3 separate regions of the Homo sapiens genome follow, and all the other regions are linked to region 2. Evidence: fine-mapped expression QTL. A gene starts in region 2. Each other region holds a variant in brackets. All regions are shown on one strand. Distances are from middle to middle. Region 1 overlaps YPEL2 (yippee like 2). Region 2 holds the start of TUBD1 (tubulin delta 1). Region 3 overlaps VMP1 (vacuole membrane protein 1).

Region 1 (5,000 bases), 530 kb before region 2:
AAATTCGAGTATGTTTTAAGAGGAGGGAAAAATCAGATTGCAGGCATAAATGTCTATCTCAAAAAGTAAACCTTTTGTTTCTAGAATAGTGGGACCTGGCTCTTTGCCAGAGCAGTGGTACTAAGAAACAGAAGGGTGGGAACAACTGCTCTGTATGGCCTGAGCTCTAGTGGGTGCCTCTGCCACTTTGCTGTTGAATGTCAGTGTTTCTTTTTTATTTATTTTTTTGAGACGGAGTCTCACTCTGTTGCCCAGGCTGGAGTGCAGTGGTGCGATCTCGGCTCACTGCAACCTCCGCCTCCTGAGTTCAAGAGACTCTCCTGCCTCAGCCTTCTGAGTAGCTGGGATTACAGGCATGCGCCACCACACCCAGGTAATTTTTAAATTTTATTTATTTATTTTTTTGAGACGGAATCTTGCACTGTTGCCCAGGCTGGAGTGCAGTGGCACGATCTTGGCTCACTGCAAGCTCCGCTTCCCGGGTTCACGCCATTCTCCTGCCTCAGCCTCCCGAGTAGCTGGGACTACAGGCACCCGCCACCACGCCCGGCTAATTTTTTGTACTTTTTTAGTAGAGACGGGTTTCACCGTGTTGGCCAGGATGGTCTTGAACCCCTGACTTCAAGTTATCTGCCTGCCTCGGCCTCCCAGAGTGCTGGGATTACAGACGTGAGCCACTGCGCCCGGCCGTGTTAGTGATTCTTAGACATCACTTCTAAGCTACAGCCAAGGCAGAAGTGACAAATTAGGGAAGAGTTCCAGCACAACCCAATAAGTCCAGTTGCAAGACATGCTCTACCAAGTTGGCTTTTATAAAGAGAATCACATTTCCCAACCCCAAATTACTTAATTATTTTCTTCAACTATGTGACCTTTGAAAGCTCTGTCTCCTACTAATGAAGCATTGGCTCTTTTGTACTCCTCTAGAAGTATCTGTTGACCACCCAGGAAGGGGTGGCAGGTGAATCAAATCTGTACAGAAAGTCTCCAAACAAAGGGATGTGGTTACTTTACAGTGTTTCTTGGTGAAAAGAAACTATTTGGGGCTCGTGTAAAGTATATAGTATCTTATGGTACCTTTCCTCCATAGGGGCAGAGATTGAACCCGTTCAGGATGAAAAGAGCCATGAATTAGGCTGGGATTTTTTTTCTCTTTTTTTGATATAAAGTCTCACTCTGTCACCCAGGCTGGAGTGCAGTGGTGCAATCTTGGCTCACTGCAATCTCTGCCTCCCGGGTTCAAGCAATTCTCGTGCCTCAGCCACCTGAGTAACTGGGATTACAGGTGTGCATCACCATGCCCAGATAATTTTTGTATTTTTAGTAGAGATGAGGTTTCACTGTGTTGGCCAGCCTGGTCTCGACCTCCTGACCTCAAGCAATCCACCTGCCTCTGCCTGCCAAAGTGCTGGGATTACAGATGTGAGCCACCGCACGCAGCTTGGGATAATTTGTATAGCACGGTTGGTCCACAGTGGGACCATTTTAACTATATCTGAAGAGTTTCTGGTGTATGTGGGTGACGGCAGTGGGGACTGTGCCTATACTTGCTCTTATCATCTTATTGATTCCATTCTGTCTTTGCACAAATACTAATTACGTACTCTGTGTGTGTGTGCGCGTGCATGCACATAGCACTATTCTAGATATTATAATACTACTCAAAAATTTTGTCAGGGAACTTTTATCCTAGTTTGGGAGATAATAGATTCATGTTATGCCTTCTTGAAGTTTCTACTTCATCTTATGTTTCTCTTAAAGCAGTTATCACAGTGTGATGACGCATGTTTCCCATTAGCCTGTGAATTACTTGAGGAGATGATTGTGACATCGTTTTTGTGTCTCTAGCAGCAGCACAGCTCCTAAGACTGGTAGATTCTCAGTGAATATTTGAGTGAATGACTTATTACTCAGATAGAGATCTTTATCAGTGAGTTTCAATCTGGGTCCGTGGACTGGCTTCAAGGACTCCATGAAATTGCATGTGTCATTCTGTGGGCATGTATATTTTTCTAGAGAGGGTTTCATGGCTTTCATCAGGCTCTCCACCAAAGATACTGTTGGTTAAAAAAGGAAAAAAACACACACACAACCAAACTTTAAGATCCATCTTTCTAGAAAATGCAGTTCTGGGAAGACTTGGTGGAAGAAGTGGCATTGAAGTGTGCCTGGAAGCAGAAGCCTCAAATGATGGGGAGGAGCTGGTAAAAGGAGCATCAGGAACAAAGAGCCAGAGGCAGGGAGCACACAGGGAGCAGCCGTTCTTTGGGGTAGAGGTTGAAAAACTGTGAAAACATTAAAGGTGTAGGTAGAAGCCAGATTATTAGAAGAATAGAAGCTAGGATGTTGTCCCATTGACAGTTGGTTGCTACTGAAGACTTTTAAGCAAGTAATGACATGACCAGCAAATGGTTAGTGCTGCTGTGGTGTGGTAGATGAACTAGTGAGGAAGAGACTAGAATGGGGCAAGTGGTGTCTGTCCATTGCAGTGGTCCGAATGTGTTCCAGGTACATGGTGGTCATTCAGCAAATACTCATTGACCACTGCTTGGCAAAGAAATAGAAGCATTCTATGGTTTTTTTTTTTTTTTAATTGTGTTTATCATGTGTAGGCATGGACAAGGGGAATTGGGTTCAGGAAGTCACATGCTTTAAATGGGAGGCAGACCTGTCGCACAGTCACGCCTGCTCCCTGTGAAAATTAATGATCTGGGCACACATAGAGTTGCTCACCAATTTAGTATCAAGGGAGCTGCTGGGACCAAATCTGGTGAATCATCTTTATGTTTTGTTTTTCTTTTGCTGCAGACTGCAGGCAGCTGGAGCACAAAATCTGCTCAAATGTGATTCTTTCTGTGTGGTTACTTTAAATACCAAAAGGAAATGTTGACTTGAGCGATGAGGCGTACCCTGAAAATTAACTCTGTGGTTTGCAGATGCCTTTAAGGTTCCAATCATAAGACTGGTTTGTATATTAGC[G/A]TCTAGGCTCTCAGCAGGGACACTGGTAATCAAGCTTGTGTTCCCAGTCAGAAATCCAAAGAAACTCTTTTTCATCAGGGTGTTCAACCTGGGAAGCAAGGAGTGGGTGCAGGATCCCTCTGTTTCTGTTTGAGCAGTGGCACTCCCTCTGGCCTCTGGAATGGTAAATCTGCACCATTGCTAGCTTGGCTGTTTGCGTTTGGGGGCTGACTAGAATCCACTGTCATACACTACTTGTTCAGTTCAATATTTCTTGTGCTTTAAACAACATTTAAACCTAGATGGTAGGGATAAGATGATTCCTGCACTTAAAGAGCCTGTGATGTTTAGGAAACAAGGGAATGCAAGGCTCACCATGGAGGGTAGAAGAATGTTACAGATAAGGTTGTTTGGTGTTGTAACAAACACACAAGATGGAAAATCTATGTTGCTGCTATTAGCTACTATTGATTGAACACCTTCTTAGTTTCTATGTATATATAGATATATATATAGAGAGAGAGAGAGACAGGGTCTCGCTATGTTGCCTAGACTGGTCTCAAACTCCTGACCTCAAGCAGACTTCCCACCTCAGCATCCCAAAGTGTTGGGATTACAGGTGAGCCACCACACTGGTCCTAAAGACTTACCCTTTTTTTTTTTCTTTTTTTTTTTTTTGAGATGGAGTCCCACTCCGTTGCCCAAGCTGCAGTGCAGTGGCGTGATCTCTGCTCACTGCAGCCTCCGCCTTTTGGGTTCGAGCAATTCTCCTGCCTCAGCCTCCCAAGTAGCTGGGATTACAGGCATCCGCCACCAGGCCCGGCTAATTTTTGTATTTTTAGTAAAGGTGTGGTTTCACCATGTTGGCCAGGCTGCTCTCGAACTCCTGACCTGACCTCAAGTGATCCACCTGCCTCAGCCTCCCAAAATGCTGGGATTACAGGCATGAGCCGCCGCACCCAGCTGAACACTTTCCTCTTTATTGAGCACCTACTGTGTGCCAGGAACTCCTTTAGGTATTTTACTTACTCCATCACTTATTTTACAACATCCTTTCAATGTGGGGATTAAGGCCATAGGTTACCAGGTTACCAAGAAGCCAGATGGGTTCAGATTCAGATCTGCTCATGTACTTTTTGCTACCGCTTCGCAGTGTGGCCTAGGTTCTTTTGGCCTTGCCTATTTTATGGTCTTACTCAGTAATCCTTGTGGCAAATCCCACCCTTTCTTCCCTCCTGTCATTTCCTTTGCCTTGGTGAATCCTTCTCCTTTCCTCTCTCTCTATTCAGTTCCTACCCATTCTTGAAGACCAGTTCACATCTTTTTTTCTTCTAGTGAGTCTTCCTGGCTTATAGGATGCTCTGAATGTCTGTAGAACTCACTCTCTGGTTGTTCATTTGGAAATTAATGACTGTCTTGTGGTATGGTCTGTGTTGTTATGGTTGCGTGCACTTTTTATGTATAATTGTCTTGCTTCCTAACAAGATTCTCAATGTCCTGGAGTCATAGATGCTCAGAACTTTGTGGCTGGAGGTACCTTTGAACCTGGAGTTTCTAGTTCAACTCCTCATTTTACAGATTAGGAAACCAAGGCCCAGAGAGAAACTGAGGGCCTCTTGATTTTGCACTTTGCCACCTCCCCCGACACACCACTTTGCACATAGCTGGTGCACATAGCCCTGGGAGAGGGCTGGCATCTGGAAGATTGACAGTGTCAAGCGCTGTGATCTTGGGCAAGACTGTTCATCTCTCTGGCTCTCCCTTTTCTTCATTTATCCAAATGAGTGCAATAGGTTAGACTGTCTTTAAAGTTCCTTCTACTTCCCCCCTGCGTCTTCTGAGTCTAATGTAGTAGCATAAGATGATATGAGGCCATATAACATAGCAGCTCGTGGTATAACTCCGAGCCCAACCACCTGGCTTATTCATTTAGTAGCTGTGTACATTAAGTAATCCCTCTGTGTCTTTTTTTTTTTTTTTTTTTTTTTGAGACAGAGTCTCGCTCTATCACCCAGGCTGGAGTGCAATGGCACGATCTTAGC
Region 2 (8,527 bases):
GAATCCTAAAAGGAGTGTCTTGAGACAGTCCAGGTAAGAAAGAACAAAAGCCAGACTAAAGCAAGTCAGTGAAGGTGGAAAGGGAAGAACAGTTTCAAGGAGTATATAGGAGGTCAAATAAGCAGATCTTGTTTGATGGTATGTATGCAGCAAGAGCACAAGGAACAATAATGAATGCCTTGGGAATAGAGATGTTGAGTTTCAGGTTCATATGAGAGATGTGGGTGGAGATATCCACTAATCTGTCTAGAGCTTTTAAGAGAGGCTGGGCTAGAGGTCTGAAAGTCACAGGTGTAATAAATGTAGCAAACTATGACAGTGAAGTTGCCCAGAGAGAACTATGCAAGTGAGGACAGGGGAGATGCAACAACTGGAGAAGAAAAGTGGGGTGACTAGGAGAAGGAGGTTCAAGGAGAGAGTTGTTTTTTGTCTTTTTTTTTTCTTTTTTGAGACGGAGTTTCGCTCTTGTCACCTAGGCTGGAGTACAATGGCACACTCTCCGACTCCCGGGTTCAAGCGATTCTCCTGCCTCAGCCTCCCAAGTAGCTGGGATTACAGGCACGCACCACTACGCTCGGCTAATTTTTGTATTTTTAGTACAGATGGGGTTTCACCACGTTGGCCAGGCTGGTCTCGAACTCCTGACCTCAGGTGATTCACCCACCTCGGCCTCCCAAAGTGTTGGGATTACAGGGATGAGCCACCATGCCTGGCTTTTTTTTTTTTTTTTTTTTTTTGAGACGGCATCTCGCTCTATTTCCCAGGCTGGAGTGCAGTGGCGAGATCTCGGCTCACTGCAACCCCCCTCCCGGGTTCAAGTGATTCTCCTGCCTCACCCTCCCGAATAACTGGGATTACAGGTATGTGCCACCATGTCCGGCTAATTTTTGTATTTTTAGTCGAGACGGGGTTTTACCCTGTTGGCCAGGCTGGTCTCTAACTCCTGACCTCAAGTGATCTGCCTGCCTTGGCCTCCCAAAGTGCTGGGATTATAGGCGTGAGCCACTGCGCCCTGCTGGAAAGAGTTTTTATACGTTACTGTTATCAAACGCAGTAGAGGAGTAAAGTGAATTAAGAAAAGAAAGAGAGGCTGGGCACAGTGGCTCACGCCTGTAATCCCAGCACTTTGGGAAGCTGAGGTGGGCAGATCATTTGAGGTCAGGAGTTCGAGACCAGCCTGACCAACATGGTAAAACCCCATCTCTACTAAAAATACAAAAAAATTAGTTGGGCGTGGTGGCGCATGCCTGTAGTCCCAGCTACTCATGAGGCTGAGGCAGGAGAATTGCTTCAACCTGGTAGTCGGAGGTTGCAGTGAGCCAAGATCGCACCACTGCACTCCAGTCTGGGTGACAGAGCTAGACTCTGTCTCAAAAAAAAAAAAAAAAAAAGAAAAAGAAAAAGAAAGAGAGCCTGTAATCCCATCACTTTGGGAGGCCAAGGCAGGCGGATCACTTGAGATCAGGCATTCGAGACCAGCCTGGCCAACATGGCAAAACCCTGTCTCTACTAAAAATACAAAAATTAGCCAGACATGGTCGTGGGCACCTGTAATTCCAGCTACTTGGGAGGCTGAGGCAGGAGAATTGCTTGAACACGGGAGGTGGAGGTTACAGTGAGCCAAGATCACATCACTGCACTTCAGCCCGGGTGACAGAGCGAGACTCTCTCAAAAAAAAAAAAAAAAAAAAGAGAGACAGAGAAAAGAAAGAGCCAGGCATGGTGGCATGCACCTGCAGTCCCAGCTACTCAGGAGACCTGTGAATAGCCACCGCACTCCAGCTTGGGCAACATAGTGTAGTAAGAACCTGTCTCTACAAGAAAAAGAAAAAAAGAAAAGAAAAACAGTAGTTGGATCTGGTGATTCGGAGGTCACTGGAAACTTTTCTTAGAGCAGCTTCAATGATGCTATGTGGGGCAGAAGCAGGATCATAGGTGGTTAAGCAGGGTCCTTTTATTTTTTTTGGAGATGGAGTCTCGCTCTGTCACCAGGCTGGAGGGCAGTGGTGCGGTCTCGGCTCACTGCAACCTCTGCCTCCTGGGTTCAAGTGATTCTCCTGCCTCAGCCTCCCGAGTAGCTGGGATTACAGGCACATGCCACCACGCCCAGCTAATTTTTGTATTTTTAGTAGAGATGGGGTTTCACCATGTTGGTCAGGCTGGTCTTGAACTCCTGACCTTGTGATCCACTCGCCTCGGCCTCTCAAAGTGCTGGGATTACAGGCGTGAGCCACCACGCCCAGCCAGCAGGGTCCTCTTTTGAGAATCTTAGATGAAAGGCAAAGAGATAAGAAGAAGAAAGCCAGTCAATAGATGAGTTTTGTTTGGTTGGTTTTAAATTGGTGAGATCTGAGCATGCAGAAGGGAAAATGCCACTGGAAAAGCAAAGATTATTAACATAGAAATGAAAAGCAAAAACAAAGTAATTCCCTAGTGAGATGGGAAGGAATGGGGTTTAAAAACCATGTGGAAGGCCTGGCTTTGAAGGGGTTGGTTAGATCAGAGTAAAGGAGAGGACTGTGGGCCACACCTACCTCCATTCTCCTCCTCACTGAAGAATCTTTCTTTGCAAGATGCTTGATATGCCTCATTCTCTCTCATAGAGCAGAGTCCCTGGGAACTGTGTGAGTCACTAAGCAAAGCATCAAAAACTTCAAAACCAATCTGATTGCCACACTGACCAAGTTGCACTGTTACAATTGACATGCTGAGCCACAAACTAGGTGTATTACCTCTAAAAACAACCTGTAATCGAAAAAAATACGCTTTGAGAACCACTACATTACTAATAAGAACAAATAAAATGCCATGTATGTTAATTATACATCAATAAAAAGTCTTTTTTCCCCCCTGAGACGGAGTCTTGTTCTGTCACCCAGGCTAGAGTGCAGTGGCATGTTCTCGGCTTAATGCAACCTCCGCCTCCCAGGTTCAAGCGATTCTCCTGCCTCAGCCTCCCGAGTAGCTGGGATTACAGGCACGTGCCACCACGCCTGGCTAATTTTTGTATTCTTAGTAGAGATGGGGTTTCACCATGTTGGCCAGGTTGGTCTTGAACTCTTGACCTCGTGATCCACCTCCACCTACCTCAGCCTCCCAAAGTGCTGGGATTACAGGCTTGAGCCACCACGCCCGGCCCAAAAAGTCATTTTAAAATGCCACATACGTATATAATATTGGAGATAGAACAGCTGTGTTGTCTAAGGAGCTAGTCATTCAAGGAAGTTCTCATACTCTCTACATGGTTTTGGGATTTGTGATTTACTGTACCTGAATCCATTCATACACAGCTCAATAGTTTCCAAAATCTGATTTGTAATCACTTTTTTCCTAAACATATGTTTAAAACAAAACATTCTCCTCAGTTGAGGAGTGATAAAAGAAAAAAAGAGGCTGGGTGCGTGGCTCACACCTGTAATCCCAGCATTTTGGGAGGCTGAGTTGGGAGAATCACGTGAGCCTGGCTGTTCCAGACCTGGTCAACATGGCAAAACCCTGTTTGTACAAAAAATACAACCATTAGCTTGGCGTGGTGGTGTGCGCCTGCAGTCCCAGCTACTCGGGAGGCTGAGGTGGGAGGATCCCCTGAGCCTGGGAGGTCCAGGCTGCAGTGAGCCAAGATCTTGCCACCGCACTCCAGCCTGGGTGACAAAGTGACATCCTCCTGTCTCCAGAAAAAAAAAAAATTAAAATTAAAAAAATAAAAACAAGACAAAACAAATGCTGATTGAAGAAATTAGTAGTACCACCCTTCACACCACATGAACATGTAGAACACAGAAGTGTGCTCAACATTGTACATTCAATTAACATTAATTTTCTCTCTTCTAAATAATAGCTTACGCTTTCTCCACTAGTCTAGCCTGGTAACTTTAGTAAGACCTGTAAGAAAGATTTTGTGTTTAGCTCAGGTAGGACAGCAAGAAAGATGCAGCTTGGAGAAAGAAAACCAGATGAAATATTAACCGGGCGCAATGGCTCATGCCTGTAATCCCAGTACTTTGGGAGGCCGAGGCGGGAGGATCACCTGAGCCCAGGGATTCCAGACCAGCCTGGGCAACACAGCGAGACCCTGTCTCCATTTGAAAAAGAAAGAAAGCAAAAGAAACATTAGAGCAGTTCCTCATTATTTTTACCTAGGAAAAGACAAGTTTTGATAAAGACTTCACATCAGGTCTATGCAGCACTGGAAATGAGCCGTGGGTTGTGAGACAGACTCTGTGCTTAAAATGTCAAACCGGCAAAGTAGGTTTATTATTATCCTCATTTTACAGATAAGGAAACTGAGGCTCTGAAAGGTTATTGACTTTTCCAAGGCCACAGAACTAGTAAAGAGCAAAGCCAAAAGGTCCCCCGTTCCCCACGGGCCCCAGGAGTTCTCCACACGTAACCCGACTCACCGCCAGACGCCGACCAGCGCTTCTGTCCGGTTCAAACTTCGGACCAACCTACTCACCATGCGCATGCTCACTTTCAAAACGAAAAACTTACTGAGAACAAATGCGCATGTTCCATAAACGGAGAGTTTTGTTGTGTATATATTTTTTCCTATTCAGAAAGATTAATTACGCATGTTCAATTTCAATTTACGAACTTCAGATATGGTACGCATGCTCACTGTCCACCGAACGCTCCAGCTGACAATGCGCATGCTCTAGTCCTCCAAGCGCGACTTCGGCTGGTGTTTTGCGCATGTTTCTGCCAGCGCCTGGATCCTGCCGATAGTTCTGCGCATGTCCACTGCCCACTGTTTGGCTTCACGGAACCCTGTACGCATGCTCCTACGCTGAACTTTAGGAGCCAGTCTAAGGCCTAGGCGCAGACGCACTGAGCCTAAGCAGCCGGTGATGGCGGCAGCGGCTGTGGTGGCTGCGGCGGGTCCGGGCCCATGAGGCGACGAAGGAGGCGGGACGGCTTTTACCCAGCCCCGGACTTCCGAGACAGGGAAGCTGAGGACATGGCAGGAGTGTTTGACATAGACCTGGACCAGCCAGAGGACGCGGGCTCTGAGGATGAGCTGGAGGAGGGGGTGAGGCCCGGGGTCCCCGGGGGCCCGAGGTGACAGGGCCGGGGCGGCGGCGCGGGCTCAGGAAGCGCGGTGTGTCCTAGAGCGTGGAGACCCAGGGGGGCTCCTGAGGAGCTGAGGGTCGCGCGGCCTGAGACAGGGGAGCGGGCGGGGCGGTCATGGCCCTAGGTGTGAGGCCTCTGCGGGGCTCGCAGGTGCAGGTCGCACCCTTAGCCCCAGGTCAGCGCAGCCCCGAGCGATCTGAAGAGGGAAAGAGAACGGGCGCGTGGTCGATTCCTCGAGCTGTTGGACTTGAGTGTGGCGGGGAGCGGGTGGCGTGAGCGTGTGTTGGGGAGACGGGGGCTGCTCTTGCTGGGTGTCCCGTAAGTGCAGGCGAAGTGTGGAGGGTTTCCCTTCGAGTCTAGAATTTCAAGTATTGAATCTTCAGACCTCCCACAACCACCTCTCTTCTCGGCCTGTCGCTTCTCTCCTAGGAAGCGCTCAGCTGTTAGAAGTGACAGCTGAAAACTTCTGTCGGGAGTAGCACTGCCGCTGCTGTTACAGCCACCAGGAGTTTTATTTCGGGAGCAAGGGGGCTCTGCTGCATCTTCCAATCTTCCAGGGTTTGTTTGTTTGCTTTTTTTTTTTTACCCCCTTCCGTGTGACTTTTTAAAATAAGCATTTATAAGGACACACGGCACTTGTAACCTTTCCCCAAGTTGAAGATGTCTGTATTTTTTTCAGAATAATTAATGTAATTTTGAGGTGGAAAAAAAAACCAAAAACCAGTTGACAGCCTTGATTTAGCTTGCCAGAAATAAGTTGCCTGAACAGAGACTTGTGAATGGTGGTATGAGGGCTTTCCTTGCTGTAATTTAGGGTGCTAAATTTAGAATTGTATTTCCTAATGCATAGCTTGGTTTCACCCTGCTGGCTTAGTGGTTTGTTAATCTTTATGGAATAACTTTTTTTTTCCCTAGATAAATTTATCAAAAAATGACAAATTGCACCTGAAGTTCAAAAATGTTGTCATACTAAATCACTGATCCTGGACCAAATGATCATCAGTTGATAACCTCTTGGTAGTTTAGCATCTAAATTCCAATGTCTAGTTGAATACATGGGTTAATGACGTCAGATGTTTGCTCTAATTACACAGGGGCTTCCTTTCCCTTGCCTCACCCTCAGTTTTTCTCCTCTGGCACCTGCCCTACTGTTGACAAAAGATTGAGATGATGTATATAAAGAATTTTGAACACTTTAAGAAACTAAGTGGCCTAAAATAATACTGTTCTTCTTGTTTGTTTCTTTTGTTTTGTTTTGAGTTGGGTCTCACTCTATCACCCAGACTGGAGTGCAATGGTGCGATCTCAGCTCACTGCAATCTCAGCCTCCTGGGTTTAAGCGATTGTCATGGCTCAGCCTCCCAAGTAGCTAGGATTACAGGCATGCGCCACCACATCTGGCTAATTTTTGTATTTTTAGTAGAGACAGGGTTTCACCATATTGGCCAGGCTGTTCTCGGACTCCTGACCTCAAATGATCCACCAGCCTCGGCCTCCCAAAATGCTGGGATTATAGGCATAAACCACCATACCTGACCAATACTGTTCTTTTCATAATCAAATAAGACTAAATCAAAATCACACGGTTTAGAAAGTGGGTATTGAGTTGTGTGCTTTTTCTTTTCTTTTCTTTTCTTTTCTTTCTTTCTGGTTTTTTTGTTTTGTTTTGTTTTTGAGACAGTCTTGCTCTGTCACCCAGGCTGGAATGCAGTGGCGTGATCTCAGCTCACTGCAACCTCTGCCTCCTGGGTTCAAGCGATTCTCCTGCCTCAGCCTCCTGAGTAGCTGGGACTACAGGCGCGTGCCACCACACCTGGCTAATTTTTTGTATTTTTAGTAGAGATGGAGTTTCACTGTGTTAGCCAGGATGGTCACGATCTCTTGACCTCGTAATCTGCCCGCCTCGGCCTCCCAAAGTGCTAGGATTACAGGTGTGAGCCACTGCGCCTGGCTTTTTTTTTTTTTTTTTTTTTGAGACAGGGTCTTCCTCTGTCACCCAGGCTGGAGTGCAGTGGTGCGATCTCGGCTCACTGCAGCCTCTGCCTCCCAGGTTCAAGCGATTCTCCTACCTCAGCCTCCCAAGTAGCTGGGATTACAGGGGCGCGCCACATCACCTGGCTACTTTTTTTGTATTTTAGTAGAGATGGGGTTTCACCATGTGGCCCAGGCTGGTCTTGAACATCTGACCTCAGGTGATCACCTGCCTCAGTCTCCCAAAGTGCTGGGATTACAGGTGTGAGCCACCCCACCAGGCTTTTTACTTTATTTTATTTTAATTTTTTTTGAGATGGAGTCTCACTGTGTAGCCCAAGCTGGAATGCAGTGGCCTGATCTCGGCTCACTGCAGCCTCCGCCTCCTGAGCTCAAGCGATTCTCGTGCCTCAGCCTTCCGAGTAGCTGGGACTACAGGCGCGCACCACCATGCCTGGCTAATTGTTTGTATTTTAGTAGAGATGGGGTTTCACCATGTTGCCCAGGGTGGGCCTGAACTCCTGAGCTCCAGCAATCTGCCAGCCTTGGCCTCTCAAAGTGCTGGGATTACAGGCGTGAGCCACTGCATCCGGTTGGTGTGTGCTTTTTCAATGATGTTTTCATGCAGAATTCCAATTAGCCTCTTAATCGAACATAATGGTACACTAGTTACAATTGGAAACAAATATGAGATTACTTTCATTATTTATACCATATACCATACTCTTTATCAGTTATGTTGGTTCTCTATGACAGTGGCTTTGGAGCAGGGCAGGGGAGAAAACTGGATAGGAAGGTGCTTTATATCTTCATTAGTTGAACTGATAGAATTTCCAGACTGGGTTTATTTTATTTTATTTTTTTTTCTTTTCTGAGACAGAGTCTTGCTCTATTTGCCCAGGCTGGAGTGCAATGGCGCTATCTCGGCTCACTGCAGCCTCCACTTCCCGGGTTCAAGCGATTCTCCTGCCTCAGCCTCCCGAGTAGCTGGGATTACAGGCACCCGCCACCAGGCCCGGCTAATTTTTGTATTTTTAGTAGAGACGGGGTTTCTCCATGTTGGTCAGGCTGGTCCGGAACTTCCAAACTTGGGTGATCTGCCTGCCTTGGCCTCTCAAAATACAGGTGTGAGCCACCGCACCCAGCCAGGTTTATTCTTTTTTGAAAGTACAGTACTCTGTTAAAATTCCTGTGTAAACTGGGACTTTTCTTTTCACTTTCTTGTGTTTCAAGAACAGTAGGTGTTCCAGGGCTTTTGTCCTGCTGGGTACAAGCAAGTAGGATTTTGAGAAGGTGTGAGGAGGAGGTCAGAAAAATTGGTGGAAATAGGAAAGAGAAAGAAATATGGCCCCGATTTTGGGGAGAGAAAGTCTGGGGAAAGAGCAAAGGCAATTAAAGAGGATTTTGAGGAAGAGACTTCTGTAAAATATGTCTTAGCAACACTTTTTGGAGTTGAAAATATTTCTTTTTAGTGTGTTATTTTTTC
Region 3 (8,527 bases), 130 kb before region 2:
AAAGTTCAAAATCCAGAAAATGTTTTACTTAATATTAAGCAGCAGTGTACATACTGATTTATCATTTTACTAATATGATTTTTTCACAAATTCAAGTATGAATATATTCACCCCTTTCTTACTATGACCCTAATTAGTGTTTGTGGCACAAGGATTTCTTTCTCTGGGCTTAACATAGATACTATATTATTATCAGAAAACTACTTAAAACTCTTCACTACCAGATTAGGATGGAGATAGATAGATAGATAGATAGATAGATAGATAGATAGATAGATAGATAGATAGATGTGGTTTTGTATAATTTTACCCTTCTAGGACAATTTTTTTTGAATTCTAAGTTTCTCTTAATTAGAAGAACTAGTAGTGTATTGTTATTCTTAAAGCTAGAGTAAAAATTGATTACATAGAATTAGTTTGGTTTTTTTCTAATCACTAAAACTTTTCTAATCACTAAAACTCATGAAAGAATGTAAATCATGGAAATGTAACTTTTTAAACTTATGTAAAAAGAGTTTTTAAAAGATAAAATATCTTTTTCCACAGACAAGTACCTACATCTGCTCTTACTAGAAATCTTACCCTTTCATCTAAGTATAGTTTGCTCTCACCCAGACATACTCCTGCCTGGCCAAGCACTACATCTTTTATCCTGGACAAGGCAAAATTATTCCATTACCAATCTTTGGAAAATATAATGTAATACAGCTCATGAGACTAGATATATGGAACTCTGAAATGAAGCAAATCCAGATGTCCAATATGTTGCAAATAACCAAGCTATCTTGTTGATTTAACTTCGTCTAGAATAACTATACTGAGTTACCAAAAATAAAACAGACCTTTATTTGCCACTTTTTTTTTTTTTTTTTTTTTTTTTAAGACAGGGTCTCATTCTGTCACAGTGGCGTGATCTCAGCTCACAGCAACCTTGAACTCCCAGGCTCAAGCAATCCTTCCACTTCACTGGGACTACAGGTGCACACCACCATACCCAGCTAATTTTTTGTTTTGTTTTGAGAGAGAGGGTCTCTCCATGTTACCCAGGCTGGTCTCAAAACTCCTGGGCTCCAGTGAGTGTCCCGCCTCAGCCTCCCAAAGTGCTGAGAATACAGACATGAGCCACCCTGCCTTGCCTATTTGCCACTTTAAGATGTACTCCCTGTATTGATCTTTACCTTGCCACATGTCACATCCTTTTAAATGTGTTCACACTCATTTTATAGCACAGCAGATGGTCTGTCTTGGCAAATATTCCATGTGTACTTGAAAATAATATATATTTGGCTCTTGCTGGGTGGTATTTTCTATGTTATTCAAATCTTCTGTGTCCATACAATTATCAGTGTAGTTGTTCTATCAATTAATGAAATATAGATGTTGACGTTTTCAACTATGTATGTGCCAGGCATGGTGGCTCACCTCTAATCCCAGTACTTTGGGAGGCCAAGGCAGGAGGATCCCTTGAACTGAGTTTGAGACCAGCCTGGACAACATAGGCAGACCCTGTCTCTACAAAAAATAGAAAAATTAGATGGGGCCAGGTGTGGTGGCTCACACCAGTAATCCCAGCACTTTGGGAGGCCTTGTTGGGAGAATCTCTTGAGCCCAGGAGTTTGAGACTAGCCTGGGCAACATAGGGGGACCCATCTCTAAAAATAACAAAAAAAAAATTATCTGGGCCAGGTGCGCCGGCTCACACCTGTAATGCCAGCACTTTGGGAGGTGTTGGTAGGAGGATCCCCTGAGCCTAGGAGTTTAAGCAACACAGGGAGACCTGTCTACAAATAATGAAAAAAAATTAGCTGGGCTGGGCACTCTGGCTTACACCTGTAATCCCAGCACTTTGAGAGACTGAGGTGGGTAGATCACTTGAGCCCAAGAGTTAGAGACCAGCCTGGGCAACAGGCAAAACCCCACCTCTACAAAAAATTAGCCAGGCGTGGTGGTGTACACCTGTAGTCCCAGCTACCCAGGAGGCTGAGGTGGGAAGATCACCAGAACTCTAGAGGTTGAGGCTGCAGTGAGCCAAGATCTTGCCACTGCACTCCAGTTTGGGTGATGGAATGAGAGACCCTGTCTCAACAACAACAACAACAAAATTAGTTGGTTGTGGTATCTTGCGCCAGCAGTCCCAGTTGGGTGGATCACCTGAGGTCAGGAGTTCAAAACCAGCCTGACCAACATGGTGAAACCACATCTCTACCAAAAATACAAAAATTAGCTGGGTGTGGTGGCGGGTGCCTGTAACCCCAGCTACTTGGGAGGCTGAGGCAGGAGAATTGCTTGAACCCCAGAGGCGAAGGTTGCAGTGAGCCAGGATCGTGCCATTGCACTCCAGCCTGGGCAACAGAGTGAGACTCTGTCTCAAAAAAAATAAAATAAAGAAATTTCTAGCTATAATTGGGGATTTGTTCATTTCTGTGTTCTGTCAGTTTTTGCTTTATGTATTTTCACACTCTGTTATTGGTTGTATACACATTTAGAATTGGTCTGACTTCCTGAGAATTAGACCTTTTATCATTTGTTCCTATGAATCTCTGTTAATATTCTTTGTCATTAAATCTACTTTGTCTAATATCAATTTAGCTACTTTATCTTTTTTATGGATTTTTTAAATGGTTTTTCTTTTCCCATTTCTTTACTCTTTCTTTTCTGGGTTCTTAATATTTAAAGTGGGTTTCTTATAGACAGCGTGTACTAATCCAGTGTGACAGTGTCTGCCTGAATTTATACATTTGGTCCATTTGCAATTAATGTAGTTATCAATATGATTGGGTTTAAGTCTACCCTCAAACTGTTTGTCATATCTAATTTTTCATTCCTTTTTCTTTTTTCTCTGCCTTCTTTTGGACTGAGGATTTTTTTGTTTTGTTTTGTTTTGTTTTGTTTTTTGGTGTTTTTTTTTTTTTTTTTTTTGGTATTGAATTTATTTGCTTGTTTGTTCTACTTCTTTTAAAATTTTTAGTGGTATAGCTAGGTGTAGTGATGCATGCCTGTGGTCCCAGCTACTCGGGAGGCTGAGGTAGAATCTCATGAGCCTGGGCAGTCAAGACTCCACTGAGCTGTGATCACACTACTGCCCTCCAGCCTGGGCAACAGGGTAGGACCCTTTCTCAAAAAAAAAAAAGAAAAAAAAAATTAGTGGTTGTCCTAAGGTTTGCAATATGCTCCATTAACTTACAGGGTGAACAATGAAGTATTGTTTTCTCATTTTGTATAAAATATAACAACCTTATAATAGTGTTCTTCATTTCCTCCTCCCATAATTTATAATTTATGCTTTAGTTGTCATACATTTTACTTCTTGTATATTTTACTTCCTCATATGTCGTAAATCCACAGTACTGTTTTGAAATATATTTTTTTGAAATATATTTTCCCTAGCTCCCAGATTCACAGGTATTTTTTTCTTTGACATTTTAAAGAAGTAATTCTGATGTCCTGTGGTTTGCATTATTTCTGATGAAAAGTCTGACCTATTTTTCCCTGTAGATGTTTTATTTTTATCTACT[C/T]TATTGTTTTTAAGACTTTTCCTCTTGTCATTGAATTATAGCAATTTCATTATGACATGATTGTGATGATTTTTAGCAGTTTGATTATGTTTTATTTTCTATTTTCTTTTTTCTTTTTTTGAGATGGCATCTTGCTCTGACGTCAGGCTGGAGTGCAGTGGCGCAATCTCGGCTCACTGCAATCTCCGCCTCCCGGATTCAAGCCATTCCCCTGCCTCAGCCTCCCGAGTAGCTGGGATTACAGGTGCGCACCACCATACCCAGCTAATTTTTGTATTTTTAGTAGGGATGGGGTTTCACCATGTTAGCCAGGATGGTCTCAATCTCCTGACCTCATGATCCACCCACCTTGGCCTCCCAAAGCGCTGGGATTACAGGCGTGAGCCACCATGCCCGGCCTATATGTTTTCTTTTCTTTTCTTTTTTGTGCTGGCATGCAGTGTTGAGATCTCAGCTCACCGCACCCTCTGCCTCCTGGGTTCAAGCGATTCTCCTGCCCCAGCCTCCCCAGTAGCTGGGATTATAGGCACTTGCCACCATGCCCGGCTAATTTTTTGTATTTTTAGTAGAGACAGGTTTCACCATGTTGGCCAGGCTAGTCTCGAACTCCTGACCTCATGATCCACCCACCTTGGCCTCCCAAAGTGCTGGGATTACAGGCGTGAGCCACCGCACCCAGCCCATGTGTTTTATTTTCTTTGTGTCGATCCTGACTGGATTTGTTCAGTTTCTTAAGTCTGTGGATTGATACTTTTCATCAAATCTGGGTCTGTTTCTATTGAGCAATATTTCTTTTGGTTATGAGTTATAATTTGCTGCTTCGCATATCTAGTAATATTATATTGAGTGCTAGTAATTTTTAATTGAATGCTAGATATGTAGTATTAAATTGTTGATTGTATGGATTTTGTCTTCCACTATAGAACATTGATGTGGGGGGAGGGTGAAGGGGACAATTAAGTTACCTGTGGATCAGCTTGATCTTTTTAAGACTTGTTTTAAACCCTGTTAGGGTCAGACTAGAGTAGCTTTCACCTTAGGACCAGAAGGAAAGGTCGTACCTACCCAGGCATGACCTTTCTGGGTTGAATGCTGAGTCTCTCTACTCTAGCTGGTTGATCACAAATGTTTCCCAGGCCTGTGTGAACTCTGGGAATTGGTCAGTTTACAAATCCCCAGTAATTATTCTTTTCCCAGTAGTTCTTGTAGTTCTTTGCCTGGACTTGTGGTCTCACCTTAGCATGCAATGCAGCTTTGTGTGCCAGAGTCTGAAGGGGACCCCTGTGCAGATTTCTAGAGTTCCTTCTCTGTGTAGCTTTCTCTTTTCTGGTATACTGCCTCATAAATTCTGACTGCCTCAGCCTTCTTGAATCCTGAACTCGTGAACCCCAATCTCATTCTCAACTCGGCAGGAGCAACATGCTTTGTTTGGGCTCTTGCTCTTTTGACCATGGAATTTTTGGCAGGCATGGAATGTGTCTACAGACAAGAAGCCAGAGTCAATGTATGGTTTCTTCATTTTTATCCCTTCTCTTAGTAATCAAAGCCCTGTACTGCCTGTAGTACAATGTCTAAAAAGAATTGTCCCATATATTTTGTCCAGTTTTCTAATTGTTTGCTATAGAAATGAAAGTCTAGTATCCGTTACTTCATCCGCCGTGAGACAGAAAACCTTCAGCCATAGACCAGGATCCCTAACCCATGCTCCCACAAGAGTTGGAACCTGCTGCTCAGTAAATATATAAATTTTATATCCTGTGGCAGGTTTTATCCAGTTAGGCTTTTCAATTAATACTATAGCTGTTTGGGTCTTTACCCTCTTGTTTCTTTGTTTAGTATGGTTAAAAATGTGACTCATATTTGCTACATTGTAGTGAGACTTGTAGTTTTTAGAAAATATACTTTAAAAGTAGTTTGAATTATGTGTAACTTTTAAAACTTTTAATCAAAAATTTTTTTATTTGAATTTTTCATATAAACATATTTTTTCATTCAAATCGGTTATATTTAAAAACCATTAAGCTAAAATGTTGAATAGAACTTGTGAGGTTTCCTATCACTTAATATAGTTTAAACTATGAACAAAGGACAAGAAACTGAGTTGTTAATGTTCATTTTGTCTGGGAACCACCACATCTGCCTCAAAGGCTGAGTAATCATGACTTACTAGTGTGGTTATGGAAAATATATGTCAGTTTAGTTGAGTGAATGAACAGACTTCTTTAGAAGAAAGAATTCTCAAATCAGAGACTTGAAAAAACATTCTCAAATCAGATTGTTGAAAATTTCCCTTTTCAGAATAACTAAAAATGAAAACTATAAAGAACTTTTATTTTATTGGATAATGTGTTTAATCTGTTAGGATACATTTTTTATATTTCTGGAATGCAAATATAGCTTTTTCTTTCCTATCTATCCCAGAAATCTCATTATTTTAGCTCCCAGAGCAATTTATTTTTGTTCACTTGAAATTCATTTCTAACTTTAGCTGTAGACTACCTGTAGCCAAAGAGGACAGTAACATGGGGACAGCATGGACAAACTCTTAAATTTTCTTCTTTTTCACTTATTGGCATTCATATGTCTCTTTTGTGTTTTCTAATAGTAAAGGTGGAAGTTACAGCTGATTTCTTCTTTTTTTTTTAATTATGTCTGATAGCTATAATTGTATGAGGAGAAATGTTTCACAAACTATGCAGTTATTCTGAATATCACAAACTTTGGGGTTTTTTTGTAGTATCACAAAATAATTCTTTTTTCCCCCAAGTGTGAAATCTCTTGTGTGCACCTGGCATTTAAAGAAATGATTGTAGATTTCATGGTTAATCATAAGTTTTCAAAAACCTAAGTAGTCAAAGTATTTTCAAAATCTTATATAATTATTTTAATACTTTAATATTTCTGCATTTCCAAGAATTAAAAGTCCCCAAAAAGAGGAACAAAGGCTAAAACTTCACATCGATTTTTTTGATCCAGAAAAAACTAATAATTAACTGATTCAGTTCCAAGGATTTCATTTTTTAGGTATTATTTTAACAGAAAATGCCGATTCTATTTAGAGATAAATATCACATATGTGTGAACAACTTTGTATATTAACATCAAACAAAATTTTATTATCTTGATAGTAGAATGTCTTAGTTTTATTTTTATCACTAGATTTTATGTACTTTGAACCACAGATTCTTTCATCAAGTGATCTTAAAATACTTTCTTATACACAGAGCCCACTTACTTTTCTGTGGGACTGTCTCATTTATGAAAAATCATTGGAGAAATCTTTAATAGAAACCTTCAGATTCAGAAATACTTGCACAATATAATTAGTAATAAAATCTCGTGTATATATATGTAAATAATTTTATTCTACAAATAAAGTATTTATCTTCATAATAGCTGATGGCTGCTAGTTACTGTATGCTAGAGGACATCTATCAACCTATGCTTAAGGGACCCAGGAATTTATATTTTAACCAACTCCCTAGTATGCAGACACCTCATCTTGTGCTTTTAGGAACCATTGTGTAAAACTCATTGATACTGGTTTCACAGTTACATTTTTGCTTTATGATCTCACTGGGAAAGGTTACATGAGGTGGTAGATCACCAGCTGTTTTTAAGTAAGGACGTAAAGTGATATTCTCAAATTGTGCCTAAAAGAACAGTGGCTCAGGAAGTTTTTTTTAATAAAAGGAATTATCTAACAAATGAGAAATATAGATAAATAAAATAAAAGTCAAGCAAGGAATTAGATCAGTGGTTGCCGGGGACTAGGACTTGAGGGAGGGAATTGGCCACAGAGGAACACAAGGGATTTTTTTTTATAAGGGATGGGGCCTTGTTCCGTTGTCCAGACTGGAGTGCAGTGGCACAATCATAGCCCACTACAGCCTCCAACACCTGGGCTCAAGCAATGCCTCCTACCTCCTGAGTAGCTGGGACTACAGGCACATGCCACAATGCATGGCTAATTTTTTAAATTTTTGTAGAGATGAGGTCTTGCTTTGTAGCCCAGGCTGGTCTTGAACTCCTGGCTTCAAGCAGTCATCCTGGCTCAGCCGCCCAAAGTGGTGGGAATACAGGCATGAGCTGCTGTGCCTGGCCAAGGGATCATTTTTGCAGTAATGGAAATGTTCTGTATCTTGATTGGTGTGGTTATATGGCTGAATATGTTCGTCAAAGCTAATTGAAATGTAGACCTCAAATAAGTGACTCATTATGTGTAAATTTTACCTCAATAAATCTGATTTTTTTTTAAGTCAACCAGGAAGAGATTCTGGGAAGGATTATTTTCTTCATATTACTAACTGCATCTTGAAATTATTTAGAATTATTTTTGTTCTTTGAAAGCTAAGATTTTTCTTACACAGTAATTAATATATTTTTAAAATAATGTGTATTGATAATTTTTTAATAGTTCTTATCAGAAGTTTCTTGTATTTGTTTTATAGGGTCCACATATAGCCTCAGTTACATTAGCTGCTTATGAATGCAATTCAGTTAATTTTCCCGAACCACCCTATCCTGATCAGATTATTTGTCCAGATGAAGAGGGCACTGAAGGAACCATTTCTTTGTGGAGTATCATCTCAAAAGTTAGGATTGAAGCCTGCATGTGGGTAAGATATGCATTTTCATATTTGTTTAAAACTAACCTCACCATCTTGATAGTGTGTGTACCTTATTGAAATGGAATCTAAACATATTCCTTGTCAGTAAATGATTCAGTCAGTAACCAGCTACCTACTTCCAAGGCAAAAGAAACCTTTTAGAGCATCTCCTATTCATGAATGGCATTGAGAAGAAAGGCATGAACCATATGTATCACAAAGCAACTGAGGCCAAGTAGACTCCAGCAGGGCAAGGGAGTACAGATGATGGAACCACAGTTGAGCCTTGAACCATGTGTGGGTTAGGGGTGCCAACCCCCTGTGCAGTAGGAAATCCACATATAACTTTTGACTCCCCAAAAACTTAACTGCTAATAGCCTACTGTTGAACGGAAGCCTTAA

Evidence for each region. PIP is the estimated chance that this variant, and not a neighbour inherited with it, causes the effect.
Region 1: its variant is the best candidate, but not a certain one, in a credible set for the expression of TUBD1 in skeletal muscle (FUSION, PIP 0.67).
Region 3: its variant is the best candidate, but not a certain one, in a credible set for the expression of TUBD1 in lung (TOPMed, PIP 0.76).

The regions. Positions count from the first base shown.
Region 1 is chr17:59,359,690-59,364,689 of GRCh38, forward strand. All of the region lies in intron 2 of YPEL2 (yippee like 2), which reads left to right. Among named protein-coding and RNA genes, the nearest start is that of MIR4729, 3.9 kb to the right of the region's middle. The variant G/A (reference allele first, on the strand shown) is at 2,980.
Region 2 is chr17:59,888,297-59,896,823 of GRCh38, forward strand. It overlaps TUBD1 (tubulin delta 1), which reads right to left and starts at 4,647. Exons shown (of 9, transcript NM_016261.4): 1 at 4,401-4,647; 2 at 2,535-2,745. The coding sequence starts at 2,706. RPS6KB1 (ribosomal protein S6 kinase B1) reads left to right here and starts at 4,825. Exons shown (of 15, transcript NM_003161.4): 1 at 4,825-5,029. The coding sequence starts at 4,889. RefSeq lists an enhancer at 4,573-4,852 and a silencer at 5,043-5,242.
Region 3 is chr17:59,757,005-59,765,531 of GRCh38, forward strand. It overlaps VMP1 (vacuole membrane protein 1), which reads left to right. Exons shown (of 12, transcript NM_030938.5): 6 at 7,967-8,134. Among named protein-coding and RNA genes, the nearest start is that of VMP1, 54 kb to the left of the region's middle. The variant C/T (reference allele first, on the strand shown) is at 3,516.